3 separate regions of the Homo sapiens genome follow, and regions 1 and 2 are each linked to region 3. The links come from fine-mapping of genetic effects on gene expression. A gene starts in region 3. Each other region holds a variant in brackets. All regions are shown on one strand. Distances are from middle to middle. Region 1 overlaps LINC02869 (long intergenic non-protein coding RNA 2869). Region 2 overlaps LINC02869 (long intergenic non-protein coding RNA 2869). Region 3 holds the start of TGFB2 (transforming growth factor beta 2).

The links. PIP is the estimated chance that this variant, and not a neighbour inherited with it, causes the effect.
Region 1: its variant is the best candidate, but not a certain one, in a credible set for the expression of TGFB2 in blood mononuclear cells (TOPMed, PIP 0.62).
Region 2: its variant is the best candidate, but not a certain one, in a credible set for the expression of TGFB2 in thyroid (GTEx, PIP 0.69).

What each region holds. Positions count from the first base shown.
Region 1 is chr1:218,517,803-218,520,563 of GRCh38, reverse strand. The region is part of intron 1 of LINC02869 (long intergenic non-protein coding RNA 2869); the gene reads right to left. Among named protein-coding and RNA genes, the nearest start is that of LINC02869, 9.1 kb to the right of the region's middle. The variant G/A (reference allele first, on the strand shown) is at 1,265.
Region 2 is chr1:218,510,214-218,512,974 of GRCh38, reverse strand. All of the region lies in intron 1 of LINC02869 (long intergenic non-protein coding RNA 2869), which reads right to left. Among named protein-coding and RNA genes, the nearest start is that of LINC02869, 1.5 kb to the right of the region's middle. The variant C/T (reference allele first, on the strand shown) is at 1,262.
Region 3 is chr1:218,344,053-218,346,813 of GRCh38, reverse strand. It overlaps TGFB2 (transforming growth factor beta 2), which reads right to left and starts at 1,478. Exons shown (of 7, transcript NM_003238.6): 1 at 1-1,478. The coding sequence starts at 112. It overlaps TGFB2-AS1 (TGFB2 antisense RNA 1), which reads left to right and starts at 1,136. Exons shown (of 3, transcript NR_046268.1): 1 at 1,136-1,211; 2 at 1,426-1,639; 3 at 2,352-2,618. RefSeq lists an enhancer at 1,061-1,110 and a silencer at 1,491-1,550.

The DNA of each region.
Region 1 (2,761 bases), 170 kb before region 3:
ATAATCTCTTCGCATCTTCCCTCTGGCTTCAAATTTCACTCACGTTCTCTGTTCAAGAAACTTGGCAGCTTGGAAACCAGGTACTGAAATTACGCGAAACTATAGTGTTATAAGTGTTCACACATACTATAAGTGTGTACACATACTATAGCTATCCGCCAGCTACACATACCTTTCCTTAGAAAATGACAAATCCATTTGAAATCAGGGTGAAACATTTAGATAGGCTTAACACTTATGTGTCCCGAGTCTCTCTTATCAGAGGAAGAAAATATAAAAATAACGAGTCCTAGGCTTACACAGTGACCTGAGCCACAAGCTGGGTGCAAAAACCCAGGTTTTGGGTTTAACCAACAGAGGAGAAATACTGGCTGGCTCTTCTGAAGAAAATTACTCACAATGCATTGCTAAAATTTATTCTTGAGAACAAAACCAGAAAGAAGGGATGAATTGGGACATAGAAAAAAAAACTTAAGCTTGATTCAGCTATCAACCGAGAGACCCTAGAATTGATGGTGACAGAGCAAACAGCAATTGTCCAGGGAGTACTTAAAACCACCTCTGTGTGTGATCATTGCCTCTATGATATGATTTCAGGGTTCTGGGAAATGTTTCTCATGTTGGTTGGCCATATATACCAGGCATTGCCAATAGTAACTAATAAAGACATCTATAAAAAATGTATAAGGAAATAGAAAACAAATACACAAATACACCATATTATTGCAATTTATGTTTTCACAAAAAACTCCTGTCACATTGCAACGTTGGTCAAAAAGATCTTCAGAGCATAACTCTGGGCAGAACTGTTCCTGCTCCTGGAAAAGTGAACCACAGTTTACAGCCAACACCCCAGTCAGAATGTCTTCTTGCCTTTGTCTAGTGCTTTGTAGATTACAAAACTGTTCTGTGAACATTTTCTCCTTTGATTCTCAGAATTTGTGTGTGTAGTGGACATTATTATTACTATTTTGTGTTTAAAGGAACCAAAGATCTTACCTACTTCTTCCAGCTTACTTCCCACCACATTCCTCTTATCTCTCTCCCCCAACCTCTCCAGGCTCCCTCTGGCCTTCCTCACACTTCGTGTTCTCAGCAAACTGAAATTCTCTGAATTCAAGTTCCCTGCTTGCAGCTCTCTTTTCTCCCTGTCTAAAACGCAGTTCCTTTCTTTCAAAGCACTTGCTCCTCGGATATTTATTTAACCTCTTCAGACTCAGCTTAAACCATGAGAAAGCTCTCTCTGACCCTTTAAGACAGACGT[G/A]TCTCCTCTGCACTGCCATAGGCTCCTTCCTGTAGGTCCCCTAAAATAGCTCTTATGGCACTTGGTTTTAATGACCTGCTTAATGGTCTGTCTTCCTCACTCAGCTTAGAGTCCATGAAGGCAGAAATCATCTCCAGTGCTGAAAAGATGTAGGTACCTAAAAAATATTTGTTGAAAGAATGAATAAAGTTACTTCCTCAGGCTCACAGAAAGGTGAGTGTCAGACCTGGGATGAAAATTCTGATCTGCTTCCAGTAAAGGGCCAGTTGTTATGTGGTTGACTGACACATGTGTTTTCAAGATGAAAGAGAGTATAACCATGTCAAAGAATGTTCAGAATAACTAGATCAGGTGAAGAACTCTCAGTAAATGTTAATCAACAAAATGTTAAAATTCACTAGACAAATCTGGGATATATCACCAAACTATTCACAATATGCCAAAGTCACACTCTTGACCTTCTTCTAGTGGAAATCATAGCTCCAAGAGGAAAAACACAGTATGTAATCTAAATGTTGGCCACAATGTCCCTCAAAAAGCATCAAACTGGAGCTTGACCATCATCTTGTCCCTCAATTAAGCAACTTTGTGTTAAATGCAAAGATGGTGCTGCTGACTCACACAAAGTTCTTTGCAATTTGAACACACAAGGTCATCCCTGAACAAGGTGAAAGTTGCTTCTGATGTTGTCTCAGCATCAAAAACTTGACAAAATTAGTCAGCATTCTTCACCAGTATCAAAGTCATCTTTAACTTGCGTATTTGTCTGCAGCTGTTATATCATCTTTCTATGTCTTTCTCCTTGGCTGTTCCTTTGTTCATGTAAATTTGCATTCAGGCCCTCCTTCTCCACCAAATGTTCTGACTGCTTTCTTTTCTCCCCTTGGAACAGAAGCATATGGCTTGCATCTGAAATCTATCCCTCTCATTTCTTTTTTGGCCAATCCGGTTAAACAATTGGCTCCACTGCTTTTCTCCACCAAAATGACTGGGTGTTTCACTTGCTTACCCAAAGGGTAGAGTTATCTGACTTTAAGCAGATGAGCCAACATTAATTTTGCAATTTGGAAGCTAAAGTATTGTCTCTGATCACAAAGTTTATAGGCATTAAAATCAACTCAGCTCAACTAGAAACAATTTCAAATCTTTCCTGCGAATTCAAAACAGAAACTTCTAAAAAGATAGTTTCATTACTTTTAGGGAGACATTTAAACACTACCTCTTCATATTTCCTTGGAAGGGAAAAAAAATACATTTCATTCCAAAGAGGAAAAAAATGGGAAAGGCGTTTTTGTCCTTTCTATCTGTTCTTTACTTCCTAAGAGCAGAAGAGTAAATTATCAGATTGGCAAGAATGGAAGAAGGAACTGAACACTGGCAAGAATGGAGGAAAGGGCAGTGTAACCAGCCCCTTCCAACAGATTCCAACATGTCCCAATTTCACTCCTTCCCTGGGCAAGAAAGCTAGGGCAGGGGGAAAGCCTGCAGTATTCTTAC
Region 2 (2,761 bases), 170 kb before region 3:
GATATAAAGAATATGGAGAAGCCAGGCACAGTGGCTCACATCTGTAATCCCAGCCCTTTGGGAGGCCAAGGTGGGTGGTTCACTTGAGGTTAGGAGTTCGAGGCCAGCCTGGCCAACATGGTGAAACCCCATCTCTACTAAAAACAAAACAACAACAAAAAAAATTAGACCAGTGTGGTGGCAGGCACCTGTAAATCCCAGCTACTAGAGAGGCTGAGGCAGGAGAGTTGCTTGAACCTGGGAGGCAGAGGTTGCGGTGAGCCGAGATCGTGCCACTGCGCTCCAGCCTGAAAGACAGAGTGAGACTCTGTCTCAAAAAAAAAAAAGAAAAGAAAAGAAAAGGAGATGGAGAGTATCAATCTACTTGAAATCTACAGAAAACGGATCAATTTCTAAAGAGAAATGGAAAAGGACCTGGAAAGGTCAATGAGTTGGTAACCTTGAGTTCTGTTATCTTAATTATTTAAAGTAGACATTCAGAATTCAATACAGAATTCTGGATAGCATAATGCCTTGATAGAAAGTATGCTTGAAGACAACTTCCTGTTGTGTATCAACTAAATAGAGCTATAGGAGAAAAACAGCCCAACTCTGTAAAAGGTTCTACACAAATGTTGAGAGCAAGAGGGTCGCCATCTTGCTTTGTGGTTGTGGAGTGCAGGCAAAGGAGAGAGGACTGAAGAAATGCACAGAGAACAGTGAACAAACCATGCAGAAGAGCAGCCAAAACCCAGGGCTTAGTTAGGTTGTCTTAACCCTAGCTGCACAATAAAATCACCAAATAGACCAGGTGGGGTGACTCACACCAGTAACCCCAGCACTGGGAGGCTGAGGCGGGCGGATCACGAAATCAGATCGAGACCATCCTGGCTAACACGGTGAAACCCGTCTCTACTAAAAATACAAAAAAAAAAAAAAAACAAACAAAAAACAAAACAAAAAAAAAAACTGGCCAGGCATGGTGGCAGGCGCCTGTAGTCCCAGCCACTTGGGAGGCTGAGGCAGGAGAACGGTGTGAACTGGGAAGGTGGAGCTTGCAGTGAGCCAAGATCGCACCACTGCACTCCAGCCTGGGCGACAGAGCGAGACTCTGTCAAAAAAAAAAAAAAAAAAAAATCACCAAATAACCGACCCAGACCAATCAAATTCTAGTCTCTCCAAGCTGAGATGATATTAGTCTTTTTTTAAAAAAACTCCTCACACATTTCTACCATGCAGCCAGAGTTAAGAAGCACCAGCCTAGTGCCCAGGAACACCGCAG[C/T]GGCAAAGATTATTAGGAGTCAATGATTTTATTAAACTGACCTGTTTAGTGAGATGGTGGCAAATTCTTTCAAGGTAGATTATCTGTAGGGAGAAGGAAGTATGGGCGTTCAAGGCAAGAGATAGAAAGTGGAAGTCATTAACTTACAGGGGATTTTTCTTTTTTTTTTTTTTTTTTTGAGATGGAGTCTTGCTCTGTCACCCAGGCGTGATCTCTGCTTACTGCAACCTCCACCTCTCGGGTTCAAGCAATTCTCCTGCCTCAGCCTCCCAAGTAGCTGGGACTATGGGCATGTGCCACCAAGCATAGCTAATTTTGACTTACAGGGGATCTTTAAAGCTGTGTTAGCAGGTACCTCTAAAAGACTGCAGAGAGAACAGAGAAACTAACACAGATTTGTGGACCACTGCTTCCATGGTTTATCAGAGTAATGAGTGGATTATGGGTAAATAAAATGGGAAATCAGCAAACAGGAATCAAAAAGCAGGGGCAAACCGTCAGTCATCAATCACATGCAATGAAAAGATCCCTTGTCAATACTGAACTCTGACTTTTTGCATTATTTTCTTCCTTCCCTCCCCTTCTAAATGGGCTTAGCTTTACCAGGTAGTCTCCTAGCTTTGTAGAATTTTTCCTATAAAATGCTTGCCAAAAGAAAGAGAAACACTTGCCTACCTTTTCATGTCTGCCCTTAAACATGTGAGTGGCACTCCAAGTGGTATTTTCCTCCGTCTCTGCTCTATTTTAGCTGACTGTTTCCTGCTGCCTGAAATTAGCCTGCCCCTAACTGTATAGATTACTTAGGTATGGCTTGCCTAGAGTAATAGATCCTAGTATTAAAAACTTTTGAATAATTCCTATCCACTAAAGTTATTTGATTTTAATTGAACTGAGCAGAATAAACTGACCTCTTCCAAATATTAATAAGTCAGATTGAATGAATCTTTCTGGGTTTTATTCTGCCTCTTAGCATCAAAGCAGAATTTTCCAACTTGAAAATCTTAAAAAGAGACCCTCAGTTATAGTCCGCTTTTAATGCCTGCTTAACTCATTCTGAAATAAATAAGTGGTAAAAGGAACAGGACTACCATCATCTGCTTAGGTTAATCATTGGTAGTGGAAAAAAATTGCTGAGTCAGCCACAGTGATGCTGTGCTGGTTAAAGTCTCACAGATCCTCACAGTTAATGACCATGATTGGTGAAGCAGTTCTCCAATATCACCTTTATTGTCTGTATGAAATCCTTCATATTTTGTAAGAGATGTAATTTCACTCTGTGTTCACATGGTATTGTCAACCACCAACAGTCAATGAGAGACAGATAACATAAGATGGACAGAGGTGGAACAGAGACGATAGAAACAGAAACCAGGGCCACGTTGTGGGAGAAAGTACAGCATGGGTTAGTTCCATAAGTGGTCAGTTCAATCGTGAATATTTTTACTTTATGATCACTCGTTCTTCTCGGTGTAATCTTGTAACTTCTGGGACTCACACAAT
Region 3 (2,761 bases):
CGATCCTCTTGCGCATGAACTGGTCCATATCGAGTGTGCTGCAGGTAGACAGGCTGAGCGCGACCGTGACCAGATGCAGGATCAGAAAAGCGCTCAGCACACAGTAGTGCATTTTTTAAAAAAGTGGAAAAAAAAGTTGTTTTTAAAAGTCAGAATAAAAAAAAGAAATCAACAATTCTCAAAGTATAGATCAAGGAGAGTTGTTTGGTTTTTTGTTGTTGTTGTTTTTGATGCGAAACTTTTGCAAACAATCTAGTCAATGCCCAACAGAAAAACGTATCCTGCTTGAATTCCTTTAAAAAGAAAAGGCCAGTAGTTCCAAAAGTGGAAATATTAATACGGGACGGGCAGAGGGAACCCTGACTTTGGCGAGTAAGAAGAAAAAAATTCTTGGAGCAATGAGATGGGGAAAAAAAGAGACGAGTGGCTATTAAGTAGAAATAAATTTAAGAGGAGGAAGTGGAGTTCAGTGTGTCAGTCTCGGGTGCGGAGTGGCGGATCTGAACTCGGCTCCTCCGGCCAAAAGGGAAGAGATGAAAAGGTCCCGGGGCTGGCAGCTGGCGAACTGACGGGAGGGGCGCCGGGAGCGCGGTGAGGGGGGCCGCCGAGGCTGACCTGGGCTGAAATTTATATATTTAAAGAAGGAGCGGTTCGGTCCTGCCTTCCACTGCGGCGCTGAGAGCAGGAGCAGCAGCAGCTCCGGAGCAGAGAAGCGCACACGTGTGTGCGTGCGTGTGTGTGTGTGTGTGTGTGTGTGCGTGTGCGCGCGCTGGGGGCGAGCCCAGCGCACCGCGGGGAGGAGGGTGCGCTTCGCAGGGCGCTCGGTACTCGGTCGGGTGCCGCAGGGGCCGCAGAGGCTGCTGAGGCGGCGCGGATCCTGCTCTGGGAGCTGCGCTCCGTGGCCTACACCCTGGCGGGCGCGCGCTGACCCGCTTGGTTACTCCACGTTGCTGCCGCCGCCGCTTGCAAACGCTTCCAGCCTCCAGCTCCCTCCTTCTCCTGCTCCTCCTTCTCTTGCTCCAAACGCCAACCCAGCCACAGACGATCAGCCGTCGCGGTTGCGTTCACCCCCTGCGGATCACAACGGCAGCCCTTGCGACACCCTGGCTGGGGAGTTTTATTCCTGAGGGGGTTGCGCAGGGGCTCCCTTGGACTCCCACCCTTTCCCAACCTCTGCTGGCTTCTCCCCAACGTGGAATTGCTCGCTTAGGGTAGGTAGGCACTTGCCACCCTAAAATAGATCCTCTCTGTCTCCTCCTGTCTGCAGCCGGGCAGCCCCTCAGTTTGTTCCTGGATGACTCCCTAGACCGTCAGGCTAATATTCTCCATCCCCCTCCCCTGCCTCTTTCACTTGCGCTCTCGCTCTGCTGTCTCTTTCTCTCTTTCTCTTTCTATCTCTATCTCAATCTGTCTTTCTCTTGTCAGGAGCTTCTGGAGCTCCGCTCGGAGCGAACCTTCTGCTGCCAGCAGATAACATCACGATCTTGCCGGGGAGGGGAGATTTATAAGTTCTCTCTGAACCACGTGTCTGCCTTCAACAAAGTGACGTGCTAGGATTACAGTCAGAAGTCCTCTCGTTACTTAGACCACGAGCTCTCCCCGAACCGTTGAGGGAGTGTGGAAATGAGGACCGCTGTGGGTAAGGGAGGAAGGAGGTGGAATGTGCGCCCTGACAACAGTGATTTACGGTATTTACTTTCCAGTCATTTTGGACAGGTCTGTTGAAGGAAGGACAATCAAGTCTCCCGTTTTTACTTAGTGTAGCTCAGTCACAGCCTCCCAAGCTGAATCACTTGCTCTAGAAGGGAAGGCTTCCCTCCTGTATTATGTGTGCACACGCACCCCTATGGGAGGGAGCACTAGTCTACTCAGGGCCAGGCCAGTACTGAAGACATACCTTCCAATCTTTTAAATTCATGTCCTACCTCTTATTTTCTGGGATACCTTAGCAGGTTGCCATCCCAGAATTTATTTTGTTAGTTTGTTGTTTACAATGTACCCCTCTGTTTGTGAACTGCTGGAAAACAGAGATCCATCAATTTTACCTAAAGAATAAGGTATACTTGTTTGTTTTACTGATTTGAATGAATGGTCACCTTTATAATTTGCTGCCTAAGCCACTTCTTGTATGGCTTTCTTCTTCACCTTCTTGCTAGGCTAAACATTATCAACCAACTTCATTCTTTCCATAGCATTAATCCAGGAAGCTGGAATTTTAAGTGTTTGATGTCTACTGTTCTACACTACTCATAACTTGACATTTTCAATTTCAACTAAGTCTAAATTAGATGAATACAAGAATAACTCTTACCACTGTTCCACCTTCCCTTTTTCTTTTATTTTACCTTTAGTTACTCAAAGTCAACATTTTCATTTCGGCATGACTCTGCAGCCATACTGACCAGACAGATGATTTAAACTGGAAACTCTGTTGAATGTACTCCCAAACCCAAGATCTCTATACTGTTCTCTACTTCAGATGTTCCTGAGTTCAGAAAAGTCACAAAGAACTTTCTATCACTTTTGGAATTTATACTTCAGTTGTGTATGGGGCCTAGGTTATTAGTAGAGCACTGAATAAATAAAATAATAATAGCTAACATATACTACACTTAGTAATTTGATGTGTGTTGTGTATGGTCATTTAATCTTCACTATGAACCTATAAAGTGGGTCTTATTATCCATATCTGGCAGATGAGGAGACTGAGGTACAAAGAAGTTAAGTACTTTGTTCGAGACCACAGTAAGTGGTAGAGCTG